Homo sapiens: one gene and its partner. The protein of the gene in region 1 purifies or fractionates together with the protein of each later gene. This does not show direct contact. Each region holds a gene or a part of one and is shown on either strand. Other genes may lie near its edges.

The links.
Region 2: the proteins of MBNL2 (region 1) and ACOX1 purify together in Homo sapiens (affinity purification with mass spectrometry; 3 studies listed by BioGRID and IntAct, with this or other methods). This does not show direct contact.

Annotation. Positions count from the first base shown.
Region 1 is NC_000013.11:97,215,037-97,226,609, reverse strand, and holds the start of MBNL2 (muscleblind-like protein 2), read right to left. Parts: upstream 4,278-11,573; 5' UTR 4,079-4,277; intron 1-4,078. UniProt on the Homo sapiens protein: Mediates pre-mRNA alternative splicing regulation. Acts either as activator or repressor of splicing on specific pre-mRNA targets. Inhibits cardiac troponin-T (TNNT2) pre-mRNA exon inclusion but induces insulin receptor (IR) pre-mRNA exon inclusion in muscle.
Region 2 is NC_000017.11:75,954,049-75,964,659, forward strand, and holds part of ACOX1 (peroxisomal acyl-coenzyme A oxidase 1), read right to left. Parts: intron 6,328-10,611; coding exon 6,167-6,327; intron 3,519-6,166; coding exon 3,411-3,518; intron 1,900-3,410; coding exon 1,780-1,899; intron 1,634-1,779; coding exon 1,518-1,633; intron 1-1,517. UniProt on the Homo sapiens protein: Involved in the initial and rate-limiting step of peroxisomal beta-oxidation of straight-chain saturated and unsaturated very-long-chain fatty acids.

The DNA of each region.
Region 1 (11,573 bases):
AAACTGCCCCAAGCCTAAAATTAATCTGATGGTTAACAATGCTAAATTAATATTAGCCAATAAAGTTATTCAAGTCTTTGAAACTTACAATTTTGCATCATTTATTTTTGTACACACACACAAAGGCAGGTATTAGGTTACTGAGTTGGGTTTCTCACCAAATAGCAAAAGCCAGGGAAGCCCAGAGGTGTTTAATAAACACTTGTTGACTGATTGATGGAATATACTACCTAGTATAATTCAGACAATGCATTCTTTGTCAAAACACTAAGGTAAATTATTGAGTCCACTTTTATTACCAAGCGTTTCTGCTGTATTGAGGAGGGCAGGCCAGCCCAAAACTCGTCCATCAGCCTCAGAGCTCAGGTTTACAAAAGAAACCCTTAGGCCTTACCTTTCACACCTGTTTTTACTCTCAGCAGAGGAGGCCGGGACTGGTCTCCATAAACAACTGTGTAGTTGGAGCCGTGCAGTCGGAGGCCCAGGCCTGATGCAGACCCAGCCACGCAGCACCTTTGGCTCTTTACTACGAATATTATCACGGCTGCAACAAATAGTTTGTGCACATTTTTTAAAAGAAAAAAAAAACTGAGAAGAGTATAAAACTGGAGAAAAAAAAATAGTATGTTAACTAATTTACAAAGCCCGGTTAAGTCTTCCTGCCTCATTCTTCTGAGAGAAACCAAAGCATTAAAATATCAAGCTCTTTGCTCTCCCCAGCAGTGGACATCCATGCTCATCCAGTTGAGTCGACCCTTCCGGAAAGGATGCCTGGGCCCATGACACCTTTACTTCTCTTTGCAGCTATTTCCTGCCTTTCTTTGCTAGGCCTTTAGCTTGGGTCTTGAGCAGATTTCGTGAACAGGGCGAACTGTCCTCTCCTGTTCTGCCATGCCCCAGGGATCTGTGCTTGCCTGGCCTGACTCTTGACCTGCAGCTCTCTCTGGGCTTTCTTGCTTGTTGATTTTTATGCCCACACCTCCCTACCTTTTTATAACCCCCTTTATCTCCACTGCCCACCTGCCCCCTAGAGTTGCCAGGTTTCTCTGCTTGGCACAACCCAGCCAGCTCTGACATGTAGCTGTACCTGAAGATGGTAAAGGCCCCCAAAACTATGTTTTCAACAACCAACATGTCTTGTAGTTATCCACCTTTTCCCGAATCAGAATCCTTCACCCCTTGCAATGTTGCCAACCTATTTCTATGTTGATAATCTGTTTTGTCATTTTGGAAATGTAAACAAATCAGTATACCTTCCTTTTCATCTTTTTCTTGTTATCGGTAGGAAAGTACAGGAAAAAAGGAAGAGAAAATGCATGAGAGATTGAACCTACTTATTCTACTATAAGGAATTCTCTTAAGCTCAGCATCTAAATCCTCTTTTCCCAATTCTTGCTTGGAATCTTGAGTACCTGATCTTGAATTTCTATGGCACTCCCTGAGCGCGGGACTGGCTGGTAGCCATGTGATATTGATTTGTTTTCACCATAGCAACAGCAAATTGAAACAACTAGCAGAGAGAAGGCAGGCTGTTAACCAGTAAAGCTACCTAACCAGTATATTTCACAAGCATATTTTTCTCCTTCCCTCTTGTTTTTTCTCTTATTTACTCCACTTTCACAAATTTAACACAAAAGTCAAAGGAAAAACAGCATTAAATGTTTTGGGCACTACAAGGCCTGTGGCCAGAATAGTGTGCTTTGCAGAGCTTCTAGTATATTAGATTAGATCGATGGAAAAAATGCAAACAACAACGCTTTGATTTCCTTGGAAATTTCATTTGTTGAACTAAGAAAAAGTATCCCTAAAAAATTTACATGAGCACAAAGTAGAGTGAAGGGTTTTGTGTATATGACTATGTATCTTAATACTCTAAGGTGTTTGCCAACAGTTTCTTAATACCGAGGTTTTATCCCTTTGTACTTTAAATAGCTCAATGTGCCAAGAGACAAACAACTTTTTTTTTTTTTTTTTTTTTTTTGGTAAAAGGTCAAGGTCTCAAAATGCTAAATGATGAGGGAAAGTGTAGCAAGTATGATTCAATTCTATTAAAAGACAGAAAAATCAAGGTAGGCACTTGCTCAAAACTACGTGAGTAGTCAGAGAGGAGACACAAATTAGCTTTGGGAACTCCCGAGAACTCCAATGTGCTCCAGTCAAAATCTTTTTTAAAAGGTTCCTTTGTAAACATTACCCTTCCCCCGATCTCTGTGACCAAGGTTGCCACCTGTGACATGGATTTGCAGCCTGCAGTATTGTACTTCCCCTGCTTGGGGCCATCTGTGCTAGGACATGATGATTTTTCTATGAAAGCAGCTGTTCTCACCATCACAACCAGCCTTGAACTTGGTGGCACAACCTGGATCCTAAATAGTGGCTCTGGAGCAACTGGGAATAGGGCCCCGGGGACCATCCACCCAGGTGGCAGCGCTGGGCTGCACCAAGGGGGAGTCAGGCCAGAAAAAAAGCTTTGCCCTGCTCCCTGCTGCTTTTTGCCAGCCCAGCCAGAAGCCCTGCAGAAAACCTGTGCTGACCGGCCCGACATGTGGCAGGTACAAGAAGATGCCCTATTTATGAGGGGACAGGTTTACAATTTACAAAAGACAGGCGAAAATATAAAGACATAACTTAAGTCCTGCCAGTGGGGAGTTAGAATGTTCCTGGCCAGGACATAAAGAAATATTCCTCTCCACAAGCTCGAATAAAGGAACACACAGCAGAAATAGTTGGGGGATGACGTCAGAAGTTCTGGGCTAGTGTCCTGCACTTCTCCTTGAAAGTAAAAACAGTGGGTCTAGAAGAATCTACGTGGCATTGCCCTTATTTAAATGAGTAGTTCTACTGCTCCTTGCAAAACAAGTAGGATAGCTGAAGAAACTTCCTCTTATTTAAAGATTATAAGAATGTTCCCCCTGCCTTTTTTAAAAACCTTATTGTCCCCAAAACACACACATTACCCAATTAACAAATAGCTTTCCACTTAACCTTTGTCTTTTAAAGGGACAGTAATGTTTCTTGTAGAACATTCAAGGTGGTGGTGGTTAGGCAAGTCAGATTTTTTTCTTCGCTTCAGTGCTTGCTAACTATTCTAAAAATGTTACACATTTATTGTAAACACATGCTTCCGAGGCCTAACAAAAAAGCACAGTTTCCTCATGCCTGGCAGAAATTTAAAACGGAAAAGGGCAGAAAGAATTCTTTAGCAAATATATCCTTTCCTTCTCCTGGGCCAAGTGTGTTAAAAATAAATCTTCTCCATCATTTCTCACTGCTGCTTCTCAGCGAGAAAGTTGATATGGTTCGGCATAGTGAAAACACAGCTTTAAAAGCTAGCCTGCCCTCATTAAATTATTCTGCTGGCTGTGTGTTCTCATTAAAAATGCATAAAGATCAGATAATTGCAGTAAGCATTATTAACCCAGCTTTACTTTTGAATATAATGGTTCCACTTTTAAGCTGGAAACAAAGGCTCAGACATGCCAGGAAAAGAAATGTAAACATTGAACTACAGTATCGAAAACTTGCCAGAAAGCTACCTCTTGCTAGGTTGTTTAAAATGTGCTTTTGAAACTCAATTAAAGCTGTAGCATTGTAGAGCTAGGTAGGTCCCTAATTTTTAATAAATAGACACATACGTTTGGCCAAACATTCAACCGATGATTATTTACCATGAATTTTTTTTTAATCCTTAATTGCAAGTCTGTTTTCAAATAATAGGATCCATGTAAACTTTATCTATTTGGGAACTAGCTATGGCAATATAACAATTTTTCACAGCAAGAAAATAAGATTGCTCCAAAGAATTCAAATGGTTTTTAAAAAATAATATAATAAATGAATCGATTCTTTGCATAAAAACTCGATTTCTTGCCTCACCCCAAACAGGCGGCATAGATTCAAGCTTTGCCATTTCTTTTTCTCAAATCAAAATGTTACGTAAAACTCCAGGGTCCCCCGCAAGTATTACAATTGAATTAGTGGAATCCAGTTTCCCTGGCTCCCGTAAGCAGCACACATGGAATGCAGCATACTGCAGCAAACTCTTTAAACATTCAAAAAAGGGGGGCGATTCTCCTACCTTGTTTAGCTCTGCCTGTCCTTCCCATTTACAGTAACCCCAGGAACATCTGGCAGAACCAAGTGGCCGAGGCTTCTCCACCGCATCATGAGAAAGAAACTTCCATGTAAATAGTTCTCATTCCCTGTTTATTGTACTCTGAAAGCCGTCTGCCGTATCTGGAAAATTTTACCTTCAGATGATGAAGCAAAGACAGTCTAAACTCTGTTGCTGTAAGCTGCAGCCCTTCCTTCCGACAAATCCCTCCCAGCCGGGGCCAGCCAATCCCCAGCCAGCTCGTCAGCCCTACTCGTCTGAAACTGGCCCTAATAGGATGACTGACACAGTAACACAGCACTTGCAGTGTGTAAAAACAGTGCATCCATACTGATGAAAGAGGAATTTCCCTCTCAGAAGAAAGCAATCATAGCACCAAGACAAAGTGGCACATAATTGGCAGAGCAGAGAGAGGGGTAGCTCAAGAAAACACCCTTGAAGACAGCCAGCTCGAAGCCAGGAGCTTCACCGTGAACACTTGGGAAAATGTGAAACTCCGCAGATTCCAAAGAAATCCAGGTTGTACATGAAACTGAAGTCCTTGGACTATCTGACAAAGCATATGTATATGTTTTTTAAAGGAAAAATAATTCAACGTCTGCCATGGCAGTTAATACCTTACAAAACATTTACATATTTCCATTATTGAGGAAGAATGTGCTAGCCCAAGTGCGTATTCAAAATCAAAACATGCTTATAGCTCTGGCACACACAGGTTTCCTGTATAACATCTGTTATTGCAGTGGTTAATTACTGCGGCCCATTTATCTTTCGTCTAAGTTTTCAGACCACTTGGGACTTCGATTAGGGAATGCTGGACAATAAAATTGATATCTATACACTACCCTTTTCTACTCTTGGCAGGCACCCACGAGAGGATTAGGTGTGCTTTAACCATCTTAGATGCCATTTGATAAATACTGTGCATTGGCTCACATTATCGTTAATGAAGCAATGATTATAGGAAGATGTTTACTGTTGAATACAAGGGGTACATGATCCAAGGGCCCCCATGAGGTGCCATTCCACAAAAGATGTTCTAGGAGGTGCTGGAGTTTCCTGAGATAAAGCAGAAGAAGAGAAAGTTTAGGAAGGGTTATTTATTTATTTATTTATTTATTTATTTCCCAGTCTACAGCATTTCTGTATGCCTTGAAAACAAAAACTCAAAAACATATGGCATTGAGCAAACACAACAAGCATACATTTTCCTCCCCTAAATACCACATTTTGAGAAAAAAAAAGTATGATGATTACATGATGAGACCAAGACAGAACAAAGCCTTTATTCATCTGAAAGGTTGAACCCAATGCACGATTTTTATAAGCAACTGTTCAGCGCATCTGTAATGAAGCAACAGAATGCAATGGAATGCTTTCTTTTTATTTTGCCATTGCATCTTAAAAACATAATATTTCATATAATTTCTAGGCTACTTTCTTCAATAACTACCATGCTTTATTCCCCTCAGTTTTTATACTTACATTCTTTGTCTTCCCCATGTAATTCTATCACATATCCTAACTTGCAGGCTTTCATCTACTGTAATACTTCTGGAAATTTAAATTAGTTCTGTGGTCAAACAGATACAAACTACTTTTAATTATTAATATACTTAAACAGATTTGTGATTCTCCTCTTCCTCATCTCCCTCTGCTGTCTTTGAAACTATCATTCCATGAATCCCATTCCTGAAACTTCAGTTATCTTTGACACATTCCCCCATTCTCAACCAATGAAACTAAGCCTTGTTGATTTTCCCTCCCAGGTAGGCCAGAACTCTGACCTATTACCTGGAAAACACAAATGCTAACAAGGCAGTCTCTGGAACTCAGGCCTCCTCATCTTCAAGCTCCCTTGTTGCCAGACGGGTTTTTTAAAATCATGTAAAGTCATGTTCCTTTCACATTCAAACCTTTCTCTCTATAAAATCTGAATTATAGACTTTCAAGGGCCTTCATAATCTGGGCTCTCCCTTTCAACTCAACTTTTTCTCCACTGTTTTCCCAAGTGAACTTCCTGATGGAGTCATGCTTATTTCTGCCTTACTCAATCTTTAGACCTCAGCTTACCTTTCCCTTTATTCTGTCTTGTCTTCTGTGGCCACATTACCCTCTCTGATGTTCTCCTGTGAAAGCATTCTGTATTGTTTATTGTACCAGACGCTTTGAAACCCTTAACAATGTAGTCTTCTGTAGTTAGCTTGCCTGAGTTGATTTTTCCATCTCAGAAATCAAGGCTTGTGTCGTATATTAATTAAGATAATGCACACAAAATGTCTATGCAGTGACTGGCACATAATAAATGCTCACTAATGATAGCCATTCTTACTGGTATTTCTAAATGCATTGTTCATTGCAGTTAGCAAAATGCCATGCACAAACTTGCTGACTTCATGATTCCTATCTCAAGAATTGATATCATATTCATCCAACTGCATGAGCTAAAAACCTGGCAGTCATTCTTAAACCTCCTTCTTCAACCACCATTTGAAATCCATTATCAAAGTCTTTCAGGTTTAACACCTAAATATTTAGAAATGTTTCACTTTGCTTCATCTCTACCAGTGGCTTTGTCCAAGCTATCGGTATCTTTTATCATGATGATTTAAATAGCCCCTTAACTGGTCTCCTGAATATATTCTTGACCCCTTCAAACCTTTTTTCACACTTCAGTCAGAACAGGAATTAAAAAACAAAAGTCTAATTTTTCCACACTCCTTTGTGTAAAACCTTTGCTGTGGACTGAATTGTGTCCCCCTAACATTTATATGTGGAAGTCCTAGCCCTCAATAGGAAGGTATTTGGAGATGGGACTTTTGGGAGGCAATTTAGATGAGGTCGTGAGGGTGGAGTCTTCACGATGGGATTTGTGTTCTTCTGAGACACCAGAAAGAGGCCTGTTTCTCTCTCCCTTTACCATGTGAAGACACAGCAAGAAAGCAGCTCTCTGCAAGCCAGGAACAGAGACCTCACCAGAACCTGACCATGCTGGCACTCTGACGTTGGACTTTCAGCCTCCAGAACTATGAGAAAACAAACTTCTGTTGTATAAGCCACCCAGTCTATGGCAGCCTGAGTTGACTAAGACAACCTTTAACTCTCTTTAGATTGCTTTTAGGAAAAAGATAAAAGCCCTCAACATGGCCCATGAGGCTCTGTGCCATGTAGCCCCTGCCTGCTTCTCTAGCTTAGCCAGAGGCCGTCTGTTCAGGGAACCCTTCCCTGACCCACAGGATGAGTTCAGATCTACTTCTTGTTTTCTCTCATAGCCCTGTGAACTCCAGAGCAGTGCATCTCAAATGTTAATGTGCATGCAAATCTCCCAGGGGTCTTGTTAAAATGCAGATCCCATCTCCATAGTTCTTGGGTGGATACTGAAATTCTGCTTTTCTAACAAGCTCCCAGGTGACACTGATGGCTCTTGTCCACGGACTATTCTTTGAGCACCAAAATGTTTATGGATGTTGTTTGCTTCATAGCACTTATTACAGGGGATGGTTATACATTAATTTGGTTATTGTTATTTATTTACTTAAGGTCTACCTTCTGAGCCAGACTGTTGGCCTCAGAAGTCACAATTGACTCTCTAACATCTAATCTAGTATGTTCGTGGCACACGGTGGAGGCGCTCCGTAACACATGTATGTTAAATGAATTAATTGATGGGTACAATGTCCTACAGATCCAAGCTGGACTTAATCTTTTTTCTTTTTTCTCTTCTTCCTCTTCTTTCTCCTTTTCCTCCTCCTCCTTCTTCTTTCCTTATTTTTCTATATCTACATAAGTTCCTGGAAACTCTGGATAGAAGCTTAATTTTTCCTGAGGTCATGACATGCTAACTAGAAAGCAGAATGTTTGAGAAACTAAAGAACAAGTAGCAAGAAGATATCAACTATATTCAAGTAAAGGAGGTGGCCAGAGGAAAGAAAATACAAAACAGTACCTTCGAATTTGCCCAATAGAAATTGTCAGTTGTCTTGTACAGTTTGATAAATTCGAGATCTATCACTCCATCCTTTTCTTTTGACCTCTAGGCCCAGTTTTTTTTTTTTGTTTTGTTTTGTTTTGTTTTTGTTTTTTTTTGAGACAGAGTCTCGCTCTGTCGCCCAGGCTGGAGTGTAGTGGCGCGATCTTGGCTCACTGCAAACTCCGCCTCCCGGGTTCACGCCATTCTCCTGCTTCAGTCTCCCAAGTAGCTGGGACTACAGGCACCCGCCACCACGCCCAGCTAATTTTTTATATTTTTAGTAGAGATGGGATTTCACCGTGCTATCCAGGATGGTCTCAATCTCCTGACCTCATGATCCGACCTCCTCAGCCTCCCAAAGTGCTGGGATTACAGGCGTGAGCCACTGTGCCCAGCCGGCCCAATTCTTCACCTAAATGTACCAGAGATGACTCATTTTTACCTTGTCCCAAACTAAAATCATTTTTTATTTGATCATTTCCCATTTCAATAAGTGAAAGCATCATTTCTCTTACGTTTCCCACTTTGGTAAATGGAGCCACCATCTTTGATGCCTAACTCTTTATCATCACCAACAACCAAATGGTCCCACACCCTGTGAATTCCTGTCTCTGGAATCTATCCACTCCTCTCCATCTTTACTGTTGGGCCCCTAATTAAACCCCCCACCACCTTTTACCTGTTCCTTACCTCTCTGCCTCCAATTTTGCCCCTCACCTTTCACTCCATTTACCACACCTCAGCCAAAATCATCTTTTTAAAAATGTTTACATGCATAAACTCACTCCATGTCTCCTCATTATCTTCCAGAGAAGTCCCCTAACTAGTTCCCAACTATCTTCTTTCACCCTCCTCTTGAAGTCACTTCCTTCCTACCTTTACATCCAGTATTATTAAACTAACTTTAGTCCCTCAGGTGTGTCATGTCTTTTCTAATTTAGAGCCTGGATTCCTTCTTCATGAAAAATCTTCTATTCCTTTCACACCCATCTAACATCTTTCTATCCAGCAACACCCAATGTACACATCACCTCCTCCAGGAAGCCTTCTTTGACCACCATGACTCTCACGGCACCTTGACATTTTATTCATCGTAGCAATTGTCACAGTACATAGTAAACATGTCTTGCTTGTTTATGTACCTCGCTAGAATCTATGAGGGAATGAACCATGTCTTTCCTATTCATCAGTTTATCCCCAGTGCCTAGAACATGCATTGCATAATAGCAGACACTTTCTGAATAGTTGTTGAATGGTTAAATGGATAAACTTGGAAATGGCACTGGTAATAAGGTGATAAAGACAGTTACAGGGCTTAAGTAAAAAAATTGGTAGAGAAGCCATAGAGACATATATATTATGTATAATGTATAATTATTATATATAATATGTGTACTATATATTATATGCATACTGTATATGATATGTATATATCATATATTATATACAACACATATGTGTATATATGTATATATTACATATTATGTGTATATTATGTTATATGTATATTCTATATTCTATAATATGTATTACGTATATATTATGTATTATGTATACATTTTATATTATGTATATAATATGCATATTATACATTATATGTGTATTATATATTATACTCTATGTATGTGTAAATATACTACATATGTAATAATATATATCCATGCATGCACACACACACACAAGCACACATGCACGAATTTAAAGTTGGACCGGAGAAGGAAAAGAAGCAATGCATAAAAGCTGAAAGGCACAATGCAGTTATGAAGTAATCTCCTTTGCTGGGCATACCAAAGTTAGCAAGCTTATAGTCAAGGAGAAAATTAATGTTTGATGATGTTTAAAATCATGGTGATTTCCTGAGAAACAGAGTCTCCCTTTGAATAGAAAAGGATAGGTGTCTTAGGACAGATGGTAGTGTTTGGTTTACTGGAAGAGATGGCCTGGTCCCTAGAAAGGAAGAAAAAGTTGTTCATAGCAAGAGAGAGATGAGACAGAAAGGTAAGTTGCTGACGGGCCTGGTCTGTGATTATTCAATCTTAGGGCTTATTTCTCTCTCAACATAATGTTTCAAGCCTATCCCGCCTCTTTGTCCTTTAGTATGTACTGCTATTTTTTACTTTTTTTTCTAGTTATTTCATGTATAAACCAAATCATAAGCCCCCTGAGGGTACAGACCTTGCATTAAAGTACTTTTCGTCATCCACAATGCCGAACATGGAGTGGTGCTGAATTCATTTTGGTTGATTGATTTCTATTTAGGATTCTGGAGAAAATTTACATACTTTCGAAGAGATTAGTATTTTTTTTAACATGTTGGTTGAAAATGCAGCAGGGAATAGAAAATTGGTTTTATAATTTTCAGAAAAAAAAAGTTATGGTGTTTTTTCCTGAATTTATCGCAAGAAATGTCAACTGGTTTTTAATTTTTCTCCAGTAGGTCTAGAGGCAGAAGATGGGAAAATTAGGACTAACATTTTCTGGGTTAAGGAAAATAGGAGGAAGCAAATTGCATAAAGCATGTAAATGAAATCATGTGTGAGACTCCCTTAGCATAGAACATGGTACATAGCAGTGCTCAATGTCTGTTAGCCACTATTTTTACTGCTACTATTATCATTATCAACATCATCATAGCCCTTAGGGCTTAGAATCCTAGTGAGAGTGATTTCTGTATGCCAAAAAAGTGATAACTAAAGTAGAGATTTCCAAACTTCCTTGCTTCATGACACTCTTGGTATTCCATAATTTTTTTCACTGTGTCCCTAGGCCAAAAATAATACCTAATTGTTCCATTTATTAAATAGCTATATCCAAATACCTTAGTAAGTGCTTATGTTTTAACAAGTAAGGAGTTATATGAAAAGTTAATGCAAAATATTTGAAAAAAAACATTTTTCTTACATGCTTAACTCGAATTAGTTTTTAATGGATTGTAGCATGCCTATCTCAAAGCTTGAAATCAGTTTGCAACCACAACTCTCATTTCCTGTTCCACATTGCTTCTTGCATGGTACTTGTTTTATCAGCTTAACAACTACTAAAAACCCAGCTTTGCAAAGATATATGTTACCATCAAAAGGAACAAAGTGTGATTCTATTGAAATCATGAATTACCTTGAGCTAGTAGGTCGCACAGTGTCTGACAGATGATGAATATTGCTGTATTTCCTTAGAAAATGTACAGCAGCCCATGGAACCCCAGTGAATTCACTACAGTTTCCTAGGGTGCCTGAGAGCATGGTTTGGGAACCATGGCACTAAGGCAAAAGTCCCAATAGTTTGGCCAATGTTAACTGTCTCATTGTTTTTCTGGTTTGATGGTCATATCATGCCTCCTGACCCAGGCCTAAGGGCATTTGAAGTCGCAGAGAGGAGGTCAGGTCAAAGGTTACAGGACATGCCCAGCCCTTAAGCTGTGGTCATGTGAAATCCTCCAAGCGTTGGAGATGGGGGCGAAGCCTATGGTTCTCCAGGATTGCAGATGTTCTC
Region 2 (10,611 bases), on another chromosome or scaffold:
TCTACTAAAAATACAAAAATTAGCTGCGTGTGGTGGCACGTGCCTGTAATCCCAGCTACTCAGGAGCTGAGACAGGAGAATCGCTTGAACCTGGGAGGCGGAGGTTTCAGTGAGCTGAGATTGCGCCACTGCACTCCAGCCTGGGTGACAGAGCAAGACTCTGTCTCAAAAAAAAAAAAAAACCAAAAAATGCTGGGTGCGGTGGCTCATGCCTGTAATCCTAGCACTTTGGGAGGCCGAGGCAAGAGGGTCCCCTGAGGTCAGGAGTTTGAGACCAGCCTGGCCAACAGGGTGAAACCCCACCTCTACTAAAAATACAAAACAATTAGCTGGGTGTGGTGGCGCATGCCTGTAATCCCAGCTACTTGGGAGGCTGAGGCAGGAGAATCGCTTGAACCCAGGAGGCGGAGGTTGCAGTGAGCCAAGATCACGCCACTGCACTCCAGCATGGGTGACAGAGACTCTCTCTCTCAAAAAAAAAAAAAAGGGGCATCAGAAGGAAAAATGCATTATTAGCTCCTTTTTTTTTTTTTTTTTTTTTGAGACAGAGTCTCGCTGTATTGCCTAGGCTGGAGTGCAGTGGTGTGATCTCGACTTACTGCAACCTCTGCCTCCTGGGTTCAAGCGATTCTCCTGCCTCAGCCTCCTGAGTAGCTGAGATTACAGGCGTGTGCCATCACACCCGGCTAATCTTTGTATTTTTAGTAGAGACAGGTTTTCACCATATTGGTCAGGCTGGTCTTGAATTCCTGACCTTATGATCCATCCTCCTTGGCCTCCCAAAGTGCTGGGACTACAGGCATGAGCCACCGCGCCCAGCCTTATTCCCTCCTTTTATGAGACGGAGTCTCACTCTGTTGCCAAGCTGGAGTGCAGTGTCATGATCTCTGCTCACTGCAACCTCCGCCTCCCGGGTTCAAGCTATTCTCCTGCCTCAGCCTCCTGAGTAGCTGGGACTACAGGTGCGCACCACCACGCCCAGCTAATTTTTTGGTATTTTTAGTAGAGATGGGGTTTCACCATGTTGGCCAGGATGGTCTCCATCTCTTGACCTCATGATCTTCCCGCCTCAGCCTCCCAAAAGTGCTGGAATTACAGGTGTGAGCCACTGCGCCCAGCCTCCTTTTTTTTTTTGAGACAAGGTCTCACTGTCATCTAGGCTGGAGTACGGTGGCATAATCACAGCTCACTGTAGCCTCGGCCTCCCAGGCTCAAGTGATCCTCCCACCCCAGTCTCCCAAGTAGCTGGGACTACACACGTGTGCCACCATACCCAGCTAGATTTTTTTACTTTTTGTAGAGATGGGTTCTCACTATGTTGCCCAGACTGATCTTGAGCTCCTGGGCTCAAGTCATCCACGCACTCAGCCTCCCAAAGTGCTGGGATAACAGGAATATGCCAGTGTGCCCTGCTGTTATTACCTTCTAAAAGAACAGACCATTCTAACCCTATTGTGAGTAACAGCCACTCAACTCCACTGTTTGATGCCTCTGCTTTATTTTCTATCAAAACATACCTGGGCATACTTCATCAGCATGTTTTCTCTGGGAATACGATGGTTGTCCATTTTGAGGTAGCCATTGTCTATCTCATCATAACCAAATTTGGGGCCGATGTCACCAACGGTAATTCCTACCACAGATGAAAGGACAGTCACGAGATGTTTATGCTCTGGAATTTCTGGCTTTTGCTCCGCCTCTTCAGTTGGGCATTCTACCTTTTGCAGAAGAAAGTGCTCAGTTTCATTTTCATCTCAACATCAGATGAACAGTTCTTACCTGGCAAAGGCTTATGGGTCCCGATTTCACGAATAGGTACGATAAAGGCATGTAATCCATAGCATTTCCCCTTAGTGATGAGCTGGGCAAGAACTATTGCATGATTTGAAGTCTTTCCAACTGTAATATCAAAGAGAACAAGGGAGGGGTGGGCAAACGTTCATACATTTTTAAAGGGTAGAAAAAAGAAGAAAGAATATGTTAAATCTAACACTAGACTAAACCAATAGTATGTGTCCAGAAAGCCTTTCTGCTGACAGCATCACACCTAGCTTTCAGAAAGAAATTCCCTTAAGCTAATAGTTATTACTTTCTTTTCTACTTATTTCTCATACATTTACGTAGAGAAAATTTTAGGATAAAAATAAGAATATTAATTTAAACTACTTCCTTGTTATCCCTTAAGGCAGTGCTGTCCAAAACAGTAATCACTAGCTACATGTGGCTTCTTACATATAAATTATAAATAAATAAAATATATAATGTGAATAACAAAATCCTTCAACCACTAACTGTATTGGAAATATATATTCCAAGATAATAACTCAGAATGGAATAAGAAGATATAAAAGTTTCGGGTCAGCCGGGCACGGTGGCTCGCGCCTGTAATTCCAGCACTTTGGGAGGCCGAGGCGGGCAGACCAGAGGTCAGGAGTTTGAGACCAGCCTGGCCAACATGATGAAATCCCATCTCTACTAAAAATACAAAAATTAGTTGGGTGTGGTGGCACGCTCCTGTAGTCCCAGCTACTCAGGAGGCTGAGGCAGGAGAATCGCTTGAACCCAGAAGGTGGAGGTTGCAGTGAGCGGAGATCACACCACTGTACTCCAACCTGGGTGACACAGTGAGACTCCATCTCAAAAAAAAAAAAAAGTTTGTGTTAAAACTATTTAAATTTTTTTCTTTTTTTTTTTTAAGAGACAGGGTTTCACTCTGTCACCCAGGCTGGAGTGCAGTGGCATGATCACAGATAGTAGCTCACTGCAGGCTTGAACTCTTGGGCTCAAGTGGTCCTCCCACCTCAGCCTCCTGAGTAGCCAGGACTATAGGTCTATAGGTATGTGCCGCTATGCCTGGCTTTCCTCTCTCTCTCTCTCTCTCTCTCTCTCTCTCTCTCTCTCTCTCTCTCTCTCTCTCTCTCTCTATATATATATATATATATATATATATATATATATATACACACACACACCTCTCTCTGTCTATATACACACACACACACCCCTCTATGTACACACACCACACACACATATATTTGTTTGTTGGGTTGTTTTTGAGACAAAGTCTTGCTGTGATGCCCAGGCTGGAGTGCAATGGTGCAATCTTGGCTCATTGCAACCTTCCCGGGTTCAAGTGATTCTCCTGCCTCAGCCTCCCAAGTAGCTGGGACTACAGGTGTGCGCCACCACACCCGGCTAATTTTTGTATTTTTAGTAGAGATGGGGTTTCAGCATATTAACCAGGCTGGTCTTGAATTCCTGACCTCAAGTGATCTGCCCACCTCAGCCTCCCAAAGTGTTAGGATTTCACCACCAAGTCTGGCCGACATTATCATAAAAGCTCTACATTCTAAGCAAAATCTCATGACAAACCTTCAAAACATCCAATAAATGCTGAAAAATTCACTTACGCCCACCAGGCCACCATTTAATGGAGGTCACAGTAGGACTGTTGAGAATGAACTCCTGGGTTTCAGGGTCATACGTGGCTGTGGTTTCCAAGCCTCGAAGGTGAGTTCCTAAGGAGATAAATTACATTGACTTCAGTTAAGAGATGGGGAAAAAAATAGGCACAAGGAAAAATTTCCTGCACAGTCCTTTAAACTCTCATATCTCAGAGAAAAACAAAATCTAACAAAAAACACCTGTAGATGAGCTACAACTGGTTGATAACCAAGACACTGAATTTCCCACACTATCTGATGGTTTCCTATTAAGTTGAAAATCTAAGTGTCATGCATGTTCCATTTCTGTATTTGATTTGTTACATTTATTTACAGCAACTGAAAGAAAATATAAAGGCAACTTAGAATCACATTTTTAAGATCACAATATATGAATTTAACAGGGATGTTAACTGTCTTTTTAAACCCATCTCTGAGTTGCAAGTATGCCAATTTCAAGTCATATGTATTGTGTTAACCACACCAATTCAACATTCTTGAATTCTGTACTAATGAGAAGAATGAGATAACATGTGAGAGGAAGACATTTCAGCCAAAATTCGTATAAATTAAAAATGTATGGCTGTGCGTGGTGGCTCATGCCTGTAATCCCAGCACTTTAGGAGGCCGAGGCGGGTGGATCACGAGGTCAGGAGATCGAGTCCATCCTGGCTAACATGGTGAAACCCGTCTCTACTAAAAATACAAAAAATTAGCCAGGCATTGTGGCATGCGCCTGTAGTCCCAGCTACTAAGGAGGCTGAGGCAGGAGAATTGCTTGAACCCGGGAGGTGGAGGTTGCAGTGAGCCAAGATTGTGCCACCGCACTCCAGCCTGGGTGGCAGAGCAAGACTCCATCTCAAAAAAAAAAAAAAAAGAAAAAGAAAAAGAAAAAGGCCAGGCACAGTGGCTCAAGCCTGTAATCCCAGCACTTTGGGAGGCCGAGGTGGGGGGATCACGAGGTCAGGAGATTGAGACCATCCTGGCTAAAGTGGTGAAACCCCGTCTCTACTAAAAAAACAACAAAAAAATTAAAGCTGGGCACGGTGGCTCACGCCTGTAATCCCAGCACTTTGGGGGGCCAAGGCGGGCGGATCACAAAGTCAGGAGATCGAGACCATCCTGGTTAACACGGCGAAACCCCGTCTCTACTAAAAATACAAAAAATTAGCTGGGCATGGTGGTGGGTGCCTGTAGTCCCAGCTACTCGGGAGGCTGAGGCAGGAGAATGGCGTGAACCCGGAAGGTGGAGCTTGCAGTGAGCTGAGATCGCGCCACTGCACTCCAGCCTGGGCGACAGAGCACGACTCCGTCTCAAAAAAAAAAAAAAAAAAAGTATAAAAGTATAACTGTTATTGGGGAAATGACCTGAAATGTGACTTTTAAAAATTCCTAAAGGTCCAATAATAAGGTCTCAGTTGACCCTAGAGATTTCCAATGGCAGGCCTAACTTAGTCCTGCTGGTTCATTAATGTGGCAAGGAAGAGTTTCCAGTTTCTTATGTGTACTGGGATAGACAGGATCTTATGTTTTAAATCTTAACACAAATATATCAAAATTATTTGAAAAGAGTCATAGAAAAATGTTCTAGGTGGCAGTCTCTACAAAAATACTGTACTAAAGCAAACGTTGGGAACCTTTTACCAATCTGCTTTCATAACGCTTAGACCTCATTAAACACACTTTGAAACATTTAGAAGCTTCCAAGTTGAATAACCAACTTATGTGCAATCCACAACTTTCCCGAGTGGGAGTCAACAAATCAGACACAGACATCTTTCATCAAAGAAGCAGCTTTTACAGAAAAGCAGATAACATTAAACAGAACAGATAAGGACAAAATGTTTTCAAAAGCACAACTGAAACAAATAGTATTCCACTTGGAGTCTCATGAAAATCCTGTAAAATACTATTCAACACCAAATAAAAAGCAGCAGCTGTATAGAAATAAGGAGCAAGTGGCAAATACACACTAGACCAGTTTTTCTGAAACGTCAGAGCAGAAAAAGAGAAGCCATAAGCAAATGAATGGCAAACACGGACCCAATTCAGAGAAGATACAAAGAGGAACAGCGGCCACCTCCAGCCCACCCAGGTGCATGAAGAAAGCAGGTGGGGGGTGGAAAGATCAATGAAAGGTGGAGATACAGAGTCTGAAACCAAATGCCTGCAAGTTCGGCTTATCTTGGTTTTTTCACTCTCCAGCCAAGTCACTTGCAGAACTACTGATTGACTCAAAGTACAAATAACTCCAAAATGTCACACACGTCAGTTATAAGCTACTCATTTCCCTCAAGCAAATCCAAGAGTACACAAACTATTATTTGTATTTCTTCTGGAATTTGTACTCATTAAGGTATCAGTAGTAAAGGTAATCAGATAGTAATGAAGAAAAAAACAGCTTCGGGTTGTATATGCACACAGATTCTATACAACCTCAGTAACATTGAAAAACCACTTGGTAAATAAGGCCTGATTTGCAATTCTTGACCCTCTGAAGGGGAACTATGGTATAAAAAGGACAATCATTTTATCAGTATCATGGTCTTTAATTCCCACTCACCAAAGCAGTGTTTATACCAAAACCTGGACTCTGCAGAAAGAGCTCATTTAAACAGACCATAGAACATCGACACACCATCGATGGCACATGGTGGGCACTCCACACATGGTAAGCTCACAGGGGCCCGCCCAACCCAGAAGGTAGACTGAATACTCCATACCATGACCCATCTCTGTCTGGGCATAAGTGCCAATGATCTCCAAGTTCCAGGCGGGCATGAAGAAGCGCTCCTGCTGCTCCGCAGTTGCCTGGTGAAGCAAGGTGGGCAGGAACATGCCCAAGTGAAGATCCAGAGGCTCAGGCCGCCCTCGGTGCACAAAACTTCGAGGAAATATCAAGGATGGGCATTTGAGAGAAGAGTCATCAGGTGTGAGAGAATCAGCAATTTAAATAGAGCAAGGGAAGGAGACAAAAAAACCTTAAGTATGAATTAGTTGCGTGCACTTAATCATAGATGGGAGCACTGTCCCTTTCTGTATTACTTTATAGCTCTTGTTAATTTCCATTTTTCCTGAGTCGGCAAGGAGTACGAGGACAGGGATTGGTTACTGATTCCAAAGCCAATGCAGCACAAAACCACACGTGCAAGGCAGAGGATCCTCGCCCAGGAATTAAATCAAAGGAAATAAAGAAAATTTGAGAGGCCAGTGCAGTGGATCATGCCTACAATCTCAGCACTTTGGGAGGCCAAGGCGGTCAGATCACCTTAAGTCAGGAGTTCGAGACCAGCCTGGCCAACATGGCAAAGCCCTGACTCTACTAAAAATACAAAAATCAGCTGAACGTGGTGGCGCCAGCCAGTAGTCCCAGCTATTTGGGAGCCTGAGGCAGGAAAATCGCTTGAACCTAGGAGGCGGAGGTTGCAGTGAGCCGAGATCATGCCCACTGCATTCCAGCCTGGGTGACAGAGTGAGACTCTGTCTCAAAAAAAATAAATAAATAAATAAGAGAGAATTGGCCAGGTGCAGTGGCTCCCACCTATAATCTCAGCACTCTGAGAGGCCGAGGTGGGTGGATCACCTGAGGTCAGGAGTTCAAGACCAGCCTGGCCAACATGGCGAAACCCTGTCTCTACTAAAAATACAAAAATTAAGCAGGCATGGTGGTGCACACCTGTAATCCCAGCTACTCAGGAGGCTGAGGCAGGAGAATTGCTCCAACCCAGGAGGCAGAGGTTGCAGTGAGCTAAGATAACACCACTGCATTCTAGCCTGGGCGACACAGTGAGACTCCATCTCAAAAAAAAAAAAAAAAAGAGAGAGAGAATTTGAAAAGTTGTATAGGGCCAGGCATGGTGGCTCATGCCTGTAATCCTAGCACTTTGGGAGGCTGACGCAGGCGGATCACTTGAGGTCAGGAGTTTGAGACCAGCCTGGCCAACATAGTGAAATCCCGTTTCTACTAAAAATACAAAAAAAAAAAAAAAAAAAAAAGGCCGGGCACCGTGGCTCATGCCTGTAATCCCAGCACTTTGAGAGGCCAAGGTGGGCGGATCACCTGAGGTCAGGAGTTCAAGACCAGCCTGACCAACATGGTGAGACCCCATCTCTACTAAATATACAAAATCAGCCAGGTGTGGTGGCACATGCCTGTAATCCAAGCTACTTGGGAGACTGAGGCAGGAGAACCTGGGAGGCGGTGGTTGCAGTGAGCCGAGATCACACCACTGCACTCCAGCCTGGGCAACAGAGCGAGACTCTGTCTCAAAAAAAAAAAAAAAAAAAAAAAGTTGTATAGAATGGAGAATTTGCTGGGTGTGGTGGCATGTGCCTGTAATCCCAGCTACTTGGGATGCTGAGGCAGAATCGCTTGAAGCCAGGAGTCGGAGAACAGAGAATTTGAGTGGTACTGGTACAAGGATTTCCTCTGATGAGAAAGCGAGACAGAACATAGTAGTTCTCTCAGAGTGACAGTATGACCCCCAGATTATAGTTTTTCCTCGATGCAATTTCAATAATGCTTCTAGGCTGGGATTTTTTTTCTGTTTTGTCCACAAAACATCCAGCGTAGAACCATATTCCTCACATAGCTCTGATCATTTCATTCAGATTCATCATGTCAAATATTCGGCCACGCTCTACTGAAACACTTTAATACAAAAACTGACAGTGCTCTTCATCCCAATAATTTATTTCAGAAATTAAAAAAGACATGCAATTTCTAGTGAAGACCATAATAACGACAAGTTACAGATTCATGCATAAGCTCTCCGTGACAATTATACAGAAATTATCATTAATGATAATAAACAGCTTTATTAGTTTTAAATCAACTTTCTGGGGTCATTCTTTTCCACTTAAAACGTGCAGGGGACAGGATTCTGTGTGAATTTTTGCTAGGGATAGGAAGTCGTTCTATAGGCCTTTGCATTTTTCCACATTACTGGTATTCTGTGTAATTGCCAGCTCCAAATCCGTCAACTCCATATTGCTCTTATCATTCTATGTGTCTTTGAAATGAGCATAAATGACAGTTCAGTTTTTAAATTGCTGTTTGTTCCTTGCAAGGTAGGGAGGAAAAGAACCAGGGCACACTGCTCAGACAAGTGCTAATCAATGACTTCTTCCAATCTAGTGGCTAGGCTTTCAGCTAAGCAATCACACTTTAGAAAAAGAAAAATCAAAGTATGTGTGACTGAATCCCTCATTTTACAGAGGAGAAATTAAGGCTGAGATGAATTAAATGCCTTGCTCAGGGAAAAAAGAAAATGGCAAAACAAGGACAAGAATCTCGTCACCATGGGAGCTGAGCAAGGGGTAAAACATGGACATGCAGAATGGAGTAACAGACACAGGGGCCAGGCGCGGTGGCTCACGCCTGTAATCCCAGCACTTTGGGAGGCCGAGGCAGGGGGATCACCTGAGGTTGGAGTTCAAGACCAGCCTGGTCAACAGGGTGAAACCCCATCTCTACTAAAAATACAAAAACTAGCTGGGCGTGGTGGTGGGTACCTGTAATCCCAGCTACTTGGGAGGCTGAGGCAGGAGAATCACTTGAACCCAGGAGGCAAAGGTTGCAGTGAGCCACGATGGCACCACTGCACTCCAGCCTGGGCGACAGAGACTCTGTCTCGAAAAACAAAAAACAACAACGAACAAAACAGACACTGGAGGCTCCAGAATGTGGAAGGATGGGAGGGGTATGAGGCCTGAAAAGTTACCTACTGGGTACTATGTTCACTATTTGGGCAATGGGTACTGCAAAATCCCAGACTTCACCATTACATAATATATACATGTAAGGAAATGGCACTTGTACCCCCTAAACCTATTTTTTAAAAAAAGAACCACCTTGTCACCTCGTCCTGTCTCCTAGCTGGGGAAATTACTGCACAAGCATAGCATGGACTAAAGACTGTGACTGCAGGCCGGGCGCGGTGGCTCACACCTGTAATCCCAGCACTTTGGGAGGCCAAGGTGGGCGGATCATGAGATCAGGAGATCGAGACCATCCTGGCCAACAAGGTGAAACCCCTCTCTACTAAAAATACAAAAATTAGCCAGGTGTGGCAGCGCCAGCCTCTAATCCCAGCTACTCGGGAGGCTGGGGTAGAAGAATCCTTGAACCCGGGAGGCGGAGGCTGCAGTGAACGGAGATCGTGCCACTGAACTCCAGCCTGGCAACAGAGCAAGACTCTATCTAAAAAAAAAAAAAGACTGTGACTGTAATGAAGATGCTAAAAAGACATGCTGAAAAAGCCAGGGCTGTCCTTAGAAGCCTCAAAAATGGAAATCCCACAAGGTGTCACCACTGGTAGAGACTCCGTGACGGGTTCACAGGGTTTCCTGGTACTATTTTTGTAACTTCCTATGACTCTACAATCATTTCAAAATTAAAAAAAAAAAAAGGCCAGGCACGGTGGCTCATGCCTATAATCCCAGTACTTTGGGGGGCCAAGGTGGGCGGATCACTTGAGGTCAGGAGTTCGAGACCAGCCTGGGCAACATGGTGAAACCCCATCTCTACTAAAAATACAAAAATTAGCTGGGCATGGTGGCAGGCGCTGGTTATCCCAGCTACTCAGGAGGGTGAGGCACGAGAATTGCTTGAACCTGGGAGGCAGAGGTTGCAGTGAGCCAAGATCGCACCACTGCATTCTAGCCTGGGGGACAAGACTCCATCTCAAAAAAAAAAAAAAAAAAAAATTAATAGCGGAAATCCCAAGAAAAACACATTCATGGGATGAGAGTGCCTTTCACTCAAACAGAAATGTCAACTGTCCCCAGCCTTTTGAGTACTGTCTAGGAAGAAAATTCAATGTGCACTTAGAACCTGGAAGGTGAAAACTGAGTTAGGACTGAAACCTGGGACCAGACACTTTTCATGCTTTTATGGAAGGTTATTTTACTTCACTAGAAATCAGAGCAATTCCTGGTGAAGGAAAGGCCACTATCAAGCACCCATCAGCCTCTGGAAGATTTACATCTGAGTGTACCACAGAGTGAAGATGCACGCTAAGGGTTACAACAAATGCGCTCAGTAGGGCAGGGGTAAAACCACTATAATCACAAATGGTTCTGACACTAAAGAATGTTTTCAGGAAAAAAATATTTCTTCCAAATAAGACAAGGATTATTCAGATGTGGATGAAATTTAGAAATGTTA